Regions from separate parts of the Homo sapiens genome. Here region 2 is linked to region 1. A link means that fine-mapping ties the variant in region 1 to the expression of a gene that starts in the linked region. Tissue or cell type: cerebellar hemisphere. Region 1 holds a variant in brackets; the other region holds the start of a gene. All regions are shown on one strand. Distances are from middle to middle.

The links. PIP is the estimated chance that this variant, and not a neighbour inherited with it, causes the effect.
Region 2: it holds the start of LACC1, and the variant in region 1 is fine-mapped to the expression of LACC1 in cerebellar hemisphere (GTEx, PIP above 0.99). The same link has a PIP of 0.9 or more in whole blood.

The regions. Positions count from the first base shown.
Region 1 is chr13:43,816,813-43,824,997 of GRCh38, forward strand. It overlaps a transcript of CCDC122 not described here. Among named protein-coding and RNA genes, the nearest start is that of ENOX1, 34 kb to the left of the region's middle. The variant C/T (reference allele first, on the strand shown) is at 3,640.
Region 2 is chr13:43,876,814-43,884,998 of GRCh38, forward strand. It overlaps LACC1 (laccase domain containing 1), which reads left to right and starts at 3,091. Exons shown (of 7, transcript NM_153218.4): 1 at 3,091-3,306; 2 at 4,139-4,734; 3 at 5,372-5,550; 4 at 6,958-7,123. The coding sequence starts at 4,173. It overlaps CCDC122 (coiled-coil domain containing 122), which reads right to left and starts at 2,927. Exons shown (of 7, transcript NM_144974.5): 1 at 2,818-2,927. RefSeq lists a silencer at 2,829-2,978.

The DNA.
Region 1 (8,185 bases):
ATTTCTCTTTTTATATGGACACTTTGTAGTAGAATTGAAGATAACAATTATTAGATAAATTGACATGGTGTTATTCATGTACTAGAAGGAAACATTGACATATTTCTTAATAAGCTGAGTATGAGAAAAACTTTCCTAACTATGACACAAAATACAAAAACAGTAAAACAATTGATCAGTTCAACTACATAAAAATAAAACAACTTTTGCATGGCAAAAGTAATATAAAAAAGTAAAAAGACAAATGACAAGCTGGGGAAAATAATTGCTACTTCTGTCACAAACGAAAGATTATTCTGGCATGAAGACAGCCACATTGACCTACAGGATAGAATAGAATGCCAAGAAACAAGCTCTCACATAGATGGTCAAAACATTTTTGACAAGGGGACCAAGACCATACAATGAGGAAGAAACAGCCTTCCACAGATGGTGCTGGGAAAACTGGGTATCTACTTGCAAAAGAATGAAGTTGGCCCCTGCTTTTATACCACATACAAAAATCAACTCAAAATGTATCAAATATTGGGCTGGGCATGGTGGCTCACACCTGTAACTCTAGTACTTTGGGAGGCCAAGGTGGGTGGATCACCTGAAGTCAGGAGTTCGAGACCAGCCTGGCCAACATGGTGAAACCCTGTCTCCACTAAAAATACAAAAATTAGCCAGGCATGGTGGCACATGCCTGTAATCCCAGCTACTTGGGAGGCTGAGGCAGGAGAATCACTTGAACCCAGGAGGCAGAAGTTGCAGTGAGCCGAGATTGTGCCACTGCACTCCAGCCTGGGTGATAGAGCCAGACTCTGACTGAAAAAAAAAGTATCAAAAATCTAAACATAAGAGCTAAAACAATAAAATTACTAGAAGAAAAAACATGGTGGAAAGCTTCATGACATTGGATTTAGCAAAGATTTCTTAGATATGATGTAAAATCACAGGCAATGAAAAATAGATAAATAGTTGAACTACATCAAAATGTCAAAATTCCGTGCACCAAAGGACATAGTAAATGATGTAAAAAGGCAACTAACTTTTTTTCCTTCATTTCAACTTTGGTGAAACTGACAATTATGTGTCTTGGAGTTGCTCTTCTCGAGGAGTATCTTTGTGGCGTTCTCTGTATTTTCTGAATTTGAATGTTGGCCTGCCTTGCTTGATTGGGGAAGTTCTCCTGGATAATATCCTGCAGAGTGTTTTCCAACTTGGTTCCATTCTCCCCGTCACTTTCAGGTACACCAATCAGACGTAGATTTGGTCTTTTCACATAGTCCCATATTTCTTGGAGGCTTTGTTTGTTTCTTTTTATTCTTTTTTCTCTAAACTTCTCTTCTCGCTTCATTTCATTCATTTGATCTTCCATCACTGATACCCTTTCTTCCAGTTGATTGAATTGGCTCCTGAGGCTTGTGCATTCGTCACGTAGTTCTCGTGCCGTGGTTTTCAGCTCCATCAGGTCTTTTAAGGACTTCTCTGCATTGGTTATTTTAGTTAGCCATTCATCTAATTGTGATCGGTGTGCTGCACCCACTGTCCTGCACCCACTGTCCGACACTCCCCAGTGAGATGAACAGGTGCTGGAGAGGATGTGGAGAAATAGGAACACTTTTACACAGTTAATGGGACTGTAAACTAGTTCAACCATTGTGGAAGTCAGTGTGGCGATTCCTCAGGGATCTAGAACTAGAAATACCATCTGACCCAGCCATCCCATTACTGGGTATATGCCCAAAGGATTAAAAAACATGCTGCTATGAAGGCACATGCACACGTATGTTTATCGCGGCACTATTCACAATAGCAAAGACTTGGAACCAAGCCAAATGTCCAACAATCATAGACTGGATTAAGAAAATGTGGCACATATACACCATGGAATACTATGCAGCCATAAAAAATGATGAGTTCATGTCCTTTGTAGGGACATGGATGAAGCTGGAAACCATCATTCTCAGCAAACTATCACAAGGACAAAAAAACCAAATACCACATGTTCTCACTCCTAGGTGGGAATTGAACAATGAGAACACATGGACACAGGAAGGGGAACATCACACACTGGGGCCTGTTGTGGGGTGGGGGAAGGGGGGAGGGATAGCATTAGGAGAAATACCTAATGTAAATGACGAGTTAATGGGTGCAGCACACCTTCATGGCACGTGTATACATGTGTAACAAACTTGCATGTTGTGCACATGTACCCTAAAACTTAAAGTATAATTAAAAAAATATTTAGCAGAAAAAGAAATGCTTATGGCCTTTAAACATATGAACGATGTTGAACCTCACTTATTAGATAAAAGCATATTAAAATATATTTGTATAATAGTTCTCTGACCTGTTATGTAGGAAAAATCCAAAAGCTTTACAATGTACAGCGATGGTAAGGCTTTGGAGAAGCAAACAGTCTCATACATTGTTGGTGTGATTATAAAAATGGTAGGTAAAACACCAGGGGACAGAATTCAGTAATATCTAGCAAAATTATGTGTGTATGTATGTTTTCAGCAAGCAATTCCACTTCTAGGAGTCTATTCCAAAGATATACTAGCTAAAATAGAAAATGACGTTTTCATGAGGGAGCATCCATTGCAGTACTATTTGTAACAACAAAAGATTACAAACAACCCAAATATTCATTAAAAGTTGAATAATCCATGGACATCCATTAGAATGAAAAGTGATGTAATTATGAAAAAGAAATTAGGAAGACCTCTATGTATCACTGTGGAGATATGTCCAGTATATTTAGTAAAAATAAGCAACAAAGCCAACAAAGTTTAAACAGCCTATACTACGCTACTTTTTGTCTCATAAAGGGATAAATACAGTACTTCTTATATTTAAAATGAAACAATGAAATAATGAATCAAAAAAATAAAAATTGTATGCCATAGAGGGATAAGGAAAATAAGAAGAGAGCAGAAATGGAATCCAGACCTCCCTAAAGTTACCTTATTTTATAATTTTAATTTGTAAACATGTAAATATCTCACATAATTAAAAAATAAGATGAAATAAAGATTTTAAAATGTGATTTCTAAAAATATAAAAATGTGATTTCTAAAAATATGAAAAAGAGAAACAAAATACATATTTTGTCTGTTCGTTGCCAGTAGAATATCATAAGGACAAAAAGACCCAAAAACCTGAAGTTTTTTTTATTGTCAATAAAATTGTTATTATTATTTTGAAACAATAAATATTTGTATTAATGTGATTTAGGATCTAAAATTTTCAGCACAGGAGAAAAAAGTGCATCTATAAAAGTGAAGGTGTTAAGGAAAACTCTATGTAATCTTTGACTTGAAAAACATAGTATAAACTGATGGGTTTTTAAAAATCAGTCCAAACTATTGTCAAAAATACAGTAGAAACTGATGATTTACTTATAAGTCCAAAAATATTGTTGTTTTCTACCTCTACCCACAGAAAAGCCTGAGGGATAGTGACAACCTAGTTTTGATGAACACCCTTAATGCTGAGCTTGTGGTTTCTAAATACTATTTCCTAATTTAAAAAAACACAGGAGCTCCACGGTAAAGTAGCAGGTTTCAGGTCTAAGGCGGGGAATATAGATGGTAAGTATGAGACAACTTGACACTCCTTAAGCAAGTAAGTTACAAAAACTTGGGGTTTTGC[C/T]GAAAGGACATTAAAGGTAACTTGAGAAGCTCTCACTGGTCAAAGATAGGGCTATTTGAACATCAATAATAATACTGTCACTGATTACAACATCAAATATATAAAAATCTACGAGTTAATTATAATGCTTTGAAAAGGGAATCTGGCTTATTACCTTTGAATATGGCTAGAACACTGGCTTCTTATTCTAAAAATTGAAAACTAAAATGAAAGAATCGAGTATCAATCCTGCCTCTCTTCTATGAACCATGTTTCCAGTTAATCAAAGAGCTGATGAAGCAGAATTTTTCTTCATATAAGAATCACGGGAAATAAATCAGTTTCTCATCTCTAAAATGAGAATATTTGTGATCCACTTTATAGTGTTGCTGTGGCTCACAGTAAAGGTCCAGTACACGTTAGCTTTTATAATTACACATTTTGAAGGGTATGCGTTCTTTTAAAAATTGCTGTAGAGAAAACACACATGCTATTGAGAATATTCTTGAAAAGTATTTTTCTATTTAGAACAATGTTTGATATCAACTTATAATAGTGCTATCCTAAACCAAATTTTATTCTCAAATGTCTTATTCCATATGCTATTCCATAAGGTCCAGGATAAGCCAGTAAGAAAAATGTGTTTTAGGATTTTTTTCTTTATCCTTGACCTTTGGGAGTTTCGGAGTTTGATTATTAAATTCCTTGAGATAGTCTTCTTTGGGTTAAATCTACTCGCTGCTCAATATCCTTCTTGGACTTGAGTATTGATATCTTTATGTAGGGGTTTTTAAAACATTTTTATTTTCTGAGACAGAGTTTTGTTCTTGTAGTGCAGACTGGAGTGCAGTGGCACAATCTTGGCTCACTGCAACCTCCACCTCCCAAGTTTAAGCTGTTCTCCTGCCTCAGCCTCCCGAGTAGCTGGGATTACAGGCGTCTGCCACAATGTCTAGGTAATTTTTGTATTTTTAGTAAAGATGGGGTTTCAACATGTTGGCCAGGCTGGTCTTGAACTCCTGACCTCAAGTGATCTGCCTGGCTCAGCCTTCCAAAGTGCTGGAATTATAGGCGTAAGCCACTAGGCCTGGCCCTTTCTCTAGATTTGATAAGTTCTCTGCTCTTATCCCTTTGAATAAACTCTCTACCCCATCTCTTTACCTTCTTTTTAAGGCCAATAACTCTTAGATTTGCCCTTTTGAGGCTATTTTGTAGATCTTTTAAGTGTTCTTCATTCTTTCTTATTCTTTTTTCTTTTGTCTCCTCTGACTGTGTATTTTCAAATACCTCATCTTCAAGCTCACGAATTATTTCTTCTGCCTAAATTCTGATATTAAGAGGCTCTGATGCATTCTTCAGTGTGTCACTTGCATTTTTCAACTCTAGAATTTCTTCTTGATTCTTTTAAATAATTTCAATCTCCTTGTTAAATTCATCTGATAGAATTCTGAATTCCCTCTCTGTGTTATCTTGAATTTCTCATAAGTTTCCTCAACACAGCTATTTTGAGTTTTCTGTCTGAAAGGACACATATCTCTGTTTCTCCAGGATTGGTCCCTGGTGCCTTATTTAGTTTCTTTGGTGAGCTCAAGTTTTCCTGGATGGTCTTGATGCTCGTAGATGTTCGTCAGTGTCTGGTCACTGAAGAGTTAGGCATTTATTGTTGTCTTTGCAGTCTGGGCTGGTTTGTGCCCCTCCTTCTTGGGAAGGCTTTCCAGGTGTTAGAAGGAACTTGAGCCCCAAGCCCAATAATGCTGTGGTTCTTGCAGACTCATAGAGATACTGCCTTGGCAGTCTTGCATACGATCTGGAAGAATTCTCTGGATTACCAAGCAGAGACTCGTGTTCTTTTCCCTCACTTTCCCGCAAATGGAGTCTGTCTCTGTCTGCTGAGTTCCCTGAAACTGGGGGTGGGGAACACAGGCTACCACCACTGGGACTGCACCAATTCAGACTTGAAAACAGCACAGCACTGGGTTTCACCCAAGGCCCCCTGTAATCACTACCTGGCTACCGCCTATGATCACTCAAGGCCCTAGGGCTCTATGATTAGCAGGTGGCGAAGCCAGCCAAGTTTGTGTCCCTTCTTTAAGGGTGGTAAGTTCCCCCAGGCCCCAGTTGGGTCCAAAGATGCTGTCTGGGAGCCAGGGATTAGAGTCAAAAACCTTAGAAATTTACCTGATGTTCTATTCTACTGTGGCTAAGCTGGCACTCAAACCACAATACAAAGCCTTTCCCACTCTTCTCCCTCCTTTTCACAGAGAGAGGAGCCTCTCCCTGTGGCTGCCACCACCACCAGCCCATGGTGGGGTTCTGCCAGGGCACTGCTGATGTTCACTTAGAGCCTAAGGGCTCTTCAGTCAGCTTGTGATGAATGCTTCCAGGCCTGAGACTCACCCTTCAGAGTGGTGGGCTCCCCTTCTTTTATAAGGCAGGTCCAGAAATGGCCATCCAAGAGCCTAGGCCTGGAACCGGGGACCCCAAGGGTCTGCTGGTGCTCTACTCCCCAGTGGCCAAGCCGGTGCCTAAGGTGCAAGACAAAGTCCCCTTTACTTCTCTCTCTGCTTTTCTCAAACAGAAGGAGTCTTTTGCTGTAGTCACCACAGCTGAGAATGTCCTAAATCACACCTAAAGCCAACACATCTCAGAGCCCAAGGCCCATGGTGTACTACCTGGGTACTGCTGTTTGTTATCCAGGGCCTAAGGACTCCTTAGTCAGCAGGTGATGAATCCTACCAGGACTGGGTCCTTCCCTTCAAGGCAGCAGGTTTCATTCTGGCCCAGGGTGTGTCTAGAAATGTAATCCACTAGCTAGGGCTTGGAAAGAGGGGCCTCATGACTCTGCCTGATGTCCTGTCTCACTGTGGCTGGGCTGGTATCCAAGATTCAAGACAACGTCCTCTTTACTCTTTGCTCTCCTTTCCTCAAGCAGAAGGAAGAAGTCACTTTCATCTCTGTGAGCTGCACTGCCTGGGGTTGAGGCAGGAGTTGTGCGAGCACTCCCTTGGCCTCGCTGTCTGGTATTGCTCTAGGCCATTTACCTGACAAGTTCCCAGGATCTAAGGCCAGCCCAGCACTAGGCGTTGCCTAGGAATTGCAATCCTTGTGCCCTAGATTACTCTTCAAGTTTACCTAGGACATCAGAGCACTTATGGCCCACAGTGGCAAGGCCTTCAGAGAAACTCAAGTTTCCATCACTGGGATGGGTGAATCCCCTCTGGCTAGGTCTGCTCTGAAAGCCTCCTCCATGCGTGGGCGCTAGGTGAGCCCAGCACAGCTTTATTCTCTACTCCCAGGGCAGCACTGAGTTCAGTGTAAAGTCCCCCAGTTGTCCCTCCCTCAAGTGCACAGATTCTCTCTCTGAGCCCCCAGTCACTGCTGGGGTATGGAGGAGTGGTAGTTTGGCTCTTCAAGACTATCTCTTCTAGCCTCTTTCAGAAATATGGAGTTGAAACTAGGTACTGTGATTGCTCACCTGATTTGGGTTCTTGTGATGATGGTGCTCTTGAGTATAGTTAGAATTTGATGCTCCTGCTTGGGGAATGAGTGGTGCAGGCTTCTATTGGGTCATCTCGCTTTGCCTTCCAAAAAATGTATTAAATGACAATAAATAATGATTTCATGTTTTAGCAAGGAGTTTAACCCTTTTTCATGCCAACGGAATCTCTCAGATTGGAGGAGTCAGTTCAATATGAGTGAACAATATGCTATGACTACCATGAAAAGCACATGTAAACTGAGGTTGCATTAGTAGAAACCTGAGTCCCAAATATGGGATGAAATAGACCTCTTCTATAAGCAACTAATAAGACTATATCTTTAGTATCTTTTTGTTTTCTTCAACTTTCATAGGACAATGTGAAGGAAGAGTATATGCAAAGGGATGTAACTAGCATGGTGAAAGGACTCGCACTTATGCCACATAAGTTGTGATAGAAACGGAACTCCTACCTTTCACTACATACAGAAATTAACTCAAGATGGATTAAAAACTTAAATGTAAGACCTCAAACTATAAAATCCTAGAACAAAACCTAAAAAATACTTTTGTGGACATCAGCCTAGGCAAAGAGTTTATGACTAAGTCTTCAAAAGCAATTGTAACAAAAACAAAAATTGATAATTTGGCCTTAATTAAACTAAAGACCTTCTGCACAGCAAAAGAACTATCAACAGAGTAAACAATCTACAGAATGGGAGAAAATATTTGCAAACTATGCAGCTGACAAAGGTCTAATATTCAGAATCTTTAAGGAACTTAAACAAATCAACAAGAAAAAATCAACCCCATTAAAAAGTGGGCAAAGGACATGAACAGATGCTTCTGGAAAGAAGATATACAAGTGGCCAACAAACATATGAAAAAATGGTCAGCATTACTAATCATCAGAGAAATGCAAATCAAACCCACAATGAGATACCATCTCATACTAGTCAGAATGGCTATTGTTAAAAAGTCGAAAACAACAGATGCTGGTGAGGCTGCAGAGAAAAGACAATGCTTATACATTGTTGGTGGGCATGTAAATTAGTTCAGCCACTGTGGAAAGCAATTTGAAGGTTTCTC
Region 2 (8,185 bases), 60 kb after region 1:
ACTGTAAAAGATTATAAAATATAGCGGTGGCTCATGCCTGTAATCCCAGCACTTTGGGAGGCTGAGGCAGGCAGATCAAGAGAGGTCAGGAGTTCGAGACCATCCTGGCCAACATGGTGAAACCCCGTCTCTACTAAAAATACAAAAATTAGCCGGGCGTGGTGGTGCACGCCTGTAATCCTAGCTACTTGGGAGGCTAAGGCAGGAGAATCACTTGAACCCTGTGGAGGCTGCAGTGAGCCGAGATCGCACCACTGTACTACAGCCTGGCGACAGAGCGAGACTTCATCTCAAAAAAGAAAAAAATTACAAAGTATAAATCTGCCCTCAGATTGCTTCACAGGTGCCTTTAAGTTATTTTCCCCTTAAAAGAACAAAATCTTGGGAAATCTTAGCTGATGGTTTATGGGTACGGTTTATGCAAGAGATAGTATGCAGAATTCCAATCAGTAGACTACATGCAAAGAAAAGGTCTTGGATCTTCTCAATAGATGGGCAAATGAACACACAGTTGTTTTAGGTTAGAATACAGTTTAAGGTATTTGTTATATTTTTTCATGATTCTGTGGTTTAACTGACCTTTTTTCTTATAAAAAAAGCCTTTTTTAGATATAATTTACATACCACAAAGTACATCCTTATAAAGTGTACAATTCAATATTTAACCATTTTTTCCACTTATTTCTTGGCTAGGGGCCCAGACTACATCTATGAGAGGGCTTCTTCATATGAACAAAATGTAAAGAAGCTATTAATTTTGCTTGATGAGGGATGGGGATTCAGGGAAGATTATGTTTGAGCTTGAAGAGCCTTGAACAAAAAGTAGCAGTTAGGCATATAAAAAGGAGGGTATTTTGCTAAGTAGAGGAACTGCAAATGTAAAGAATGAAATCATGTGGCCTCCAAAGAACAGCTTTTATTTGAGTGGCTTGGGAATAGGGTGTTTTTATTTTTTCAAACTTAATTATGCATCTAACTCATACATAGAGGTTAAAACAAAACAAAAAAGCAAAGCAAAACATGCTCAGGCCTAACTCCTAGAGATTCTGATTCAATGTATATTTGGGATAGAGTCTCTACATTAATTATTTTTTTTTTCAGTTGCACTTGCAGTTCTGATTTGCAGCCAAGACTGAGAACCACTGGAGTAGGATAGAGTGAAAATGGGATGAGGAAGTGTTAGGACATGACACTAGGACCAGATGGTGAAAGGAAATGGTATGCAAATACAATATAACAAACTCTCTTCCCTGACAACTTCATTCTTTTGAAATATTTTCTTTTTCATTTTTTTTTTACTGCCACTACTTTTGCATGAAAGAATACGAATCCCACCATTGTAAAAACAGAGATAAATGTTTAAAACCTTTGTAACTAAAAGACCTCTGTTTTGCTTGAGGTATTAAGCTGGTGCAAAAGTAATTGTGGTCTTTGTCAATGGCAAAAACCGCAATTACCTTTGCACCAATCTAATGATATTTAACATAAACAAACTCAGGGCAGAGTGCACCTTCTGATTGGGTGTACCATCTACCGCTCGGGGCTCTTTAACAAATGACCAAAGAAAACATGAATTTTGACATAACTGGTGCTAGGGTTATTGAAGGGTGGGTTTCCATTCTGGGTTAGTGCTCCCAGTCTCTAGTCAAGCACAAGAACATGCCTACCCCAGAGGGCTCTTCCAAATTCCCAGCTATCTGAGATTATGAGACAAAGGTTCTTTAGCGCCTACCAAATGAGCAACAATGAAGATAAAAGGGACCTCTCCTTCCATCATAACCAGTTCCCCAGGAAGCACCATTTCTCTTACTCTTGGAAGGTCGGATATTTTTTCCCTTTACCATACACTGGCCTTCCATGTCCTAACTGCTATTTTCAAATAAATGAACGTTATATTCTTGGAGGACAGATCAGGGATGCTAAACTGCACCTTTATCATGATTTTAGGGATGAGCGCCTTTTACTTAAGTCCTGCTAGTGGCACATATTTTAAAAGGCCATAGAGGACATCCGTGTTGTCAACACAAGTGAAGGCGCTCGGAAGAGTGTTGGTCAGCAAGAATCAGCACAAAGACATTGGAGGAGAGACAACAGCTTGTTTCTGGAAACAAATGAACAACAAAAAAACACTAAAACATCTCGAGGGGGCCCCTGACTTGAGCCCTGCATGGGAAAAGCTGCCAAGAGCTAGCATGACAAGGGACTGGCCCTGGGCTGCGGTGAGGAAACCCAGCGTCCTGACCACACTGCTGGGTCAGCGAGGCGTCCCTCAGAGACCGGAAACGCGGACTTCAGCTCGCTTGGGAAACGGCTTCCATTAGCAGAAGGGAGACTGCGGTTTAGTCCCGAGGTCGCTCCAGCAGCCCGGCCTCACGCGACCCACCATTCCCGCCGCCCCCTCACGGTGCCCGCCGTTCCCGCCGCCCGGCTTTCTAACCGGGCCCCTAGTTCCCCGCCCCGTGCCCTCTGGAGACCTGCAGCTCCTGCCGCCCTGCGCCCGCTCCCAGGGCCCGTCGTTCCGCCGCCCTATCCCTCCTCAAGGGGCCCCTAGCTGCCTCCTCGCGACCCTTTCCGGACTCGGCCTGCCCACTCCTGCCCGCTAACCCGCCTGGCTCCCGGGCGAGAGCCCTCGCGCGGCTCTGGTTCCTGTTCCTCTAACGCCGCCGGGGCTGCGGGATGCCGACTCCGCGGACCGCCCAGACCCGGAACTGCTGAGGCAGCAGCGGGCTCGCGGCGCTTGGCTCATCCCGGGATTCCCCAGCTCTCGCGCTGGGCCCGCCGCGTTCGCACCAAGCACGCCAGGCGGCCCTGGCCTACCTCCCTCCCGCCTCCCGGCAGCTGGCACGAGGGAACCTGGCCGTCAGGTTTCCCCTGGGATCCTGGGACGGTATCAGGCGGGGAATCTGTGCGGCCGCGGCGAGGTAGGTGAGGTGAGGCGGGGCGAGGTGGGCGAGGGGGGCGAGGTGAGGCGGGGCGAGGCGGGGCGAGGCGAGGCGGGGCGAGGTGGGCGAGGTGGGCGAGGTGAGGCGGGGCGGGTGTCGTCGCGCTGGGCCGAGCTTACGACTCCAGCTGACCCGCTCGCGGCTGCCCAATTTCGTTGAGGCTCAGGACGAGGGACGGGGCGGCAAATTGTCACAGAGGTCGCCGTAGACCGGTGTGCAACCGAAGGTGAAGAGCGGGAAGGCGAGGACCGAATCGCCTCTGGTGTGCGTTGTCCGACAGGAAGTCCCGAATGGGCTGTGAGCCGCCGGTGGAGGTGCCCGGGCAGGTGCAGAGCCACAGCCTGCGCCCCGTGAGCCGAGGCGGGTAGGAGGAACAGGGACCTGGCGGCGACACACGTTGGGCGGAAATTCACAATGAACAGGGAAGGGGGGACGGTCACCCACTCAAAACTGGCTAAATGAACCTCAGAGGGAGCCCCGAGAGATGGGGAGCAAAGGTTAGGGGAAGCGGCAGGAGAAAACCTTCTTGGGGCAAAGGGCGTCACCAAAGGGGGTCACCGGAGCCCCGCAGGTTGGGGTGGGAGGGCTGGGCTGGAGGTGAGCAAAGCTGCACGGGGAGAATGAATTAAGAAAGTTGAGAGGAAGCCTGTCTCATCCAAATCACTATAGCTTTTGTGGTCATTGCTAAGTGTGGAGTACTGCGCAAATCCTGAAGGGAACTCTATTAGCCATCTCAGCTTTTATCATCTTAAAACGCGAATTTCGCGTGCAGCTCCATTTAGCTTCGTAAACTTAAGCCCCCGCATATGAAAGGATGAGACCTAATATGACAATCATGTCAGGACTAATGATATATCACACAGGTTGACACTCTGCAATTTAAAAACAGGACTTTGTCTAAACTCCACAAGTAATTCCTTACTCAAAAGTTCTGTGTAAACAAAACAGAGGAACTGTCGTGCTGCTGGAAAGATGTACCAGCATTTTCACAAAACGAATTAAAAGATGGCTTTGCTTTCACTGTCATGGTTCTGTTGTGACAGAGTAGACTGGCTTTTCTGGGAGGGGCCTAGATTTACTATTTTAGTTACATTTTAAAATCAGTGTAATTACTTCGTTTTTAATCTACCACAAATTTCTGTTGTAACTATAAGATTTATATAATCTTATATTCTTACACTAATTTTTATTTGCAGGTGATTTATTTGGCATAAAAGTATTCTTTCAAGGATGGCAGAAGCTGTTTTGATTGATCTTTTTGGTTTGAAATTGAACTCTCAAAAAAACTGCCATCAGACATTACTGAAGACTTTGAATGCTGTCCAATACCACCATGCTGCCAAGGCCAAGTTTCTCTGTATAATGTGTTGCAGTAACATCAGCTATGAAAGGGATGGAGAACAAGATAATTGTGAAATAGAAACAAGCAATGGATTATCAGCTCTCTTGGAAGAATTTGAGATTGTTAGCTGTCCCAGCATGGCTGCCACTTTGTATACCATTAAACAGAAAATTGATGAAAAAAATCTGAGCAGCATTAAGGTAATTGTACCCAGGCACAGGAAGACATTAATGAAAGCTTTTATTGATCAACTCTTCACTGATGTTTACAATTTTGAATTTGAAGATTTGCAAGTGACTTTTAGGGGAGGGCTTTTTAAACAGTCCATTGAAATAAACGTAATCACAGCTCAAGAACTAAGAGGAATTCAGAATGAAATAGAAACATTTTTGAGAAGTCTGCCAGCACTGAGAGGAAAATTAACTATTATCACTTCTTCTTTGATCCCAGGTATATTAACCACTAACTGTTGTTTTTACTTTGTACATGGAAAACTAGTCTTTCTTCAGAGGTAGTTCACCTCTTTTTTTCCTCCTTTCTTTTGTTGACTGTTGTGGGCTGATTACTCATTAGCATCAGTGGCAACACAGAGGTGTCATGTTTGGCCCTGTAGTATCAGGGGTGTCAAGGGATAAAGCCTTCAAAGCCACCCCAAATAAATAAATTTGCTTTACAAAAATTTGATGATGAGACAAATAATCTAGCCCTCCTTTGCAATGAGATTTATGACACTGAAAATCTTCTATTTAGAAATTCTGAAATTTCAAATCATTGGCACCTTCATAGAAGAGTAAAATTTAAAACAATCAATCTTACTTCTTGGTTAAACAGTATTTTCTGTGAGCTATATGCTATTAGATATAACAAAGCCAGATGAGACACAATATACCTTTTGAAGAGCAACAATCTCATAGGGAGTGTAAAACAAACACAAAGCAGAATGCCATAAGAACATATGGAGGTACAAAATGCCATAGAAATTAGAAGCCAAATAACAAGGGCAGGTAGCAGTGATCAGGGAAGGTCTAATTGAGAGACTGGTATTTTGAATAGCATCTTTTAAATCTTCACTGCTTATCTTCAACAGATATTTTCATACATGGATTTACTACAAGAACAGGTGGGATATCTTATATACCAACTCTTAGCTCATTCAATCTCTTCAGTAGTTCCAAACGGAGAGATCCCAAGGTAGTGGTTCAAGAAAATCTGCGTAGGTTGGCGAATGCTGCAGGATTTAATGTGGAGAAATTTTACCGAATAAAGGTAAAATTTTGCTTTATATTTTGAAAGATCTAAAGTATATTTTTTACTTTGCTAGTAACTACATGGACTTTAAGCTATTTAACTTTTGTATCTGCTTTTTTATCTAAAGTTTTAGAATAATGCTGTGGTTGTCTTTCTTAGATTTATACACCATAGCCTAAAGATAAGTTCTATTTTATACACACACACACACACGTGCAGATATATATATATATATATATATGCACACACACATATAGTAAGTCATCCTTTAATGTTGATAGGTTCTTAGAAATTGTGACTTTAAGTGAAACGACATAATAAAACCAATTTTACCATAGGCTAATTGATATAAATAAGAATAAAGTTTCTAAGGCATATTTCTTGTCACAAAAACATCACCAAACTTCTAAATAAAGACCAACACATTCCTAGTATTAAACATTGAAATAAATGTGAGCTAGACATATATTTACAAAACAGTAAGAAAGACAAATAAGATAACTACCAAATTATTTCGGTTCAGGGCTTTAGGTAGCTGGAGTCTATTCTGGCAGATCAGGATGCAAGGCCACAACCCACCCTCGACAGGACACCATTCCATTGCAGGGTGCCCTTACACACACACACACGTACTCATGCTGGGACCATGTAGACACCCCAATTCATCTAACATGCACTTCTTTGGGATGTGGGAGGAAGCTGGAGTACCCAGAGAAAACCCATGTGGACGTGAGGAGAAGGTGCAAACCTCACACAGTCAGTGACCGGGTGGGTAATCAATTTTTTTCATTAACATTATAATGAAATGATGTGGAATAAAATGACATTATTCAAGAGCCTACTGTATATTTCATCTGGAGTCCTCAATTCTAAAAGTACAGTTAATTCTCAGAGAGTATACTACCACTGCTCTTTTTGATTTAGAAGAAAGGGAACTGAATGGTGGTAGAGAAAGGCCATTATTTTATAAATCTACTCCAGGAGGAACTAGGGTCATAGTTGATGAGATAATGTCTTGTTCCTTACAGAATTCTAGCTTTACTTGAGTCTTGGAAAAGTAAAAGTATCATTGATTTGTTAATTAACTTTCCTTTACAAGAAAAATTTTCATTTTGTAGAAAGTGCTATAAGAAATGATATACCTATCTTTATGGAAAGATGTTCATTATTCACTATATTGAATTTTATAATGTTAAACTCTGCTTTTCTTTGCATAAACTATCAGAGATTATAATCTAAAATCTTAAATAGTTAAATTATAAGTAAATTTTGTGTTTTCCCATATATAAAAGTGATATATTTAATGAATGCTAGTAATCTTAAACTGGTTATATAATTTTATACTACAATGAGTACCTTCGAGAAAGCTTATGGTATAAGAAATACTATTTCCAAAACATTTTTGTTGCACATTTTTGGTATTAGACTCATCATTCCAATGACATCTGGATTATGGGAAGAAAGGAGCCTGACTCTTATGATGGAATAACCACAAATCAGAGAGGAGTCACAATAGCAGCTCTTGGTGCAGACTGTATACCGATAGTTTTTGCAGATCCAGTCAAAAAAGCATGTGGGGTTGCTCACGCTGGTAAGTATACTTAATTAAACATTTAGAATTTTACTCATTTTGTTGTGCAGGAAAAATTGTAATTTCTTTCTGATGGACATGGCAAACAGTTAATTACATTACACTGTGGTAAGTGTAATGATGGGAGAGGCGGCATAGTTTTATTATAGGGACAGCTAAGAGGAGTATCTGCATCAAATTATATGAATTATAGTAGAATTCCCAAAGGAGGTGGCACCTAGGTTGATTCCTGAGGAATTTGTTGGTTTTGGCTGGGTAACAGTGTTCCTTAGCAAGGGTGCTATTAACATTTTGGGCAGGATAATCCCACATTGCAGATTAAGTGTCTTTAGCCCCTGAAATCCTTAATGACAGTAGCACCTCTAGTTACTGTAATAACCAAGACCAACCAACCAACCAATCAAACAACAACGAAACCCTCCAAGCTTTTCAAAACACTCCCTAGGGGAGTGGTACTGCCTCTGGTTGAGAATCCTTGAAATCCAGGCCATAGGAAATAGGAATGTTAGGCATGTTGCAGAGAAGTGTTCACCCAGATGGAGCTGCATGTGTAAAGCTAGGGAGGTAGGAAAAAGCAAGATGTTTTGAAAACTGTTTTTAGTTTACATCACTTAATGTATTTAACTGTAACTATTCTCTGAGAGCAAAGAAGTATTTTTAGAAGGTATATTGTGTTAAGGATATGGAATTTTGTTTTCTGAAGGTATTTTAAAATAGTATTTTAGATTACCCCATAGCTGTGATTTTGTGTGAAATGAGGGATGATCTTTAAAATTTCCTTCTACTTGTAAATCTATGGCTACTTTGCTTTTTAGCTCATAGGTAAAAAAGAAAGTAGCATATTTTTATTTTGACCTAGCTGAAATAATGGGATTGAATGAGTAGAAGTCAGGTTTACTACATGACATTGTCAAAAAGTTATTTAAAATTTGAGTCTTGGCTCCTGGATATAAAAAGAGGATATTATTTTTTTACTTCTTAGGTTCGAAAACATTTAGTTTAAACATATCCAAGATCAAGCAGTCAAAATGAAGTTATAAATGTGAATTTCAAGTCATTAAT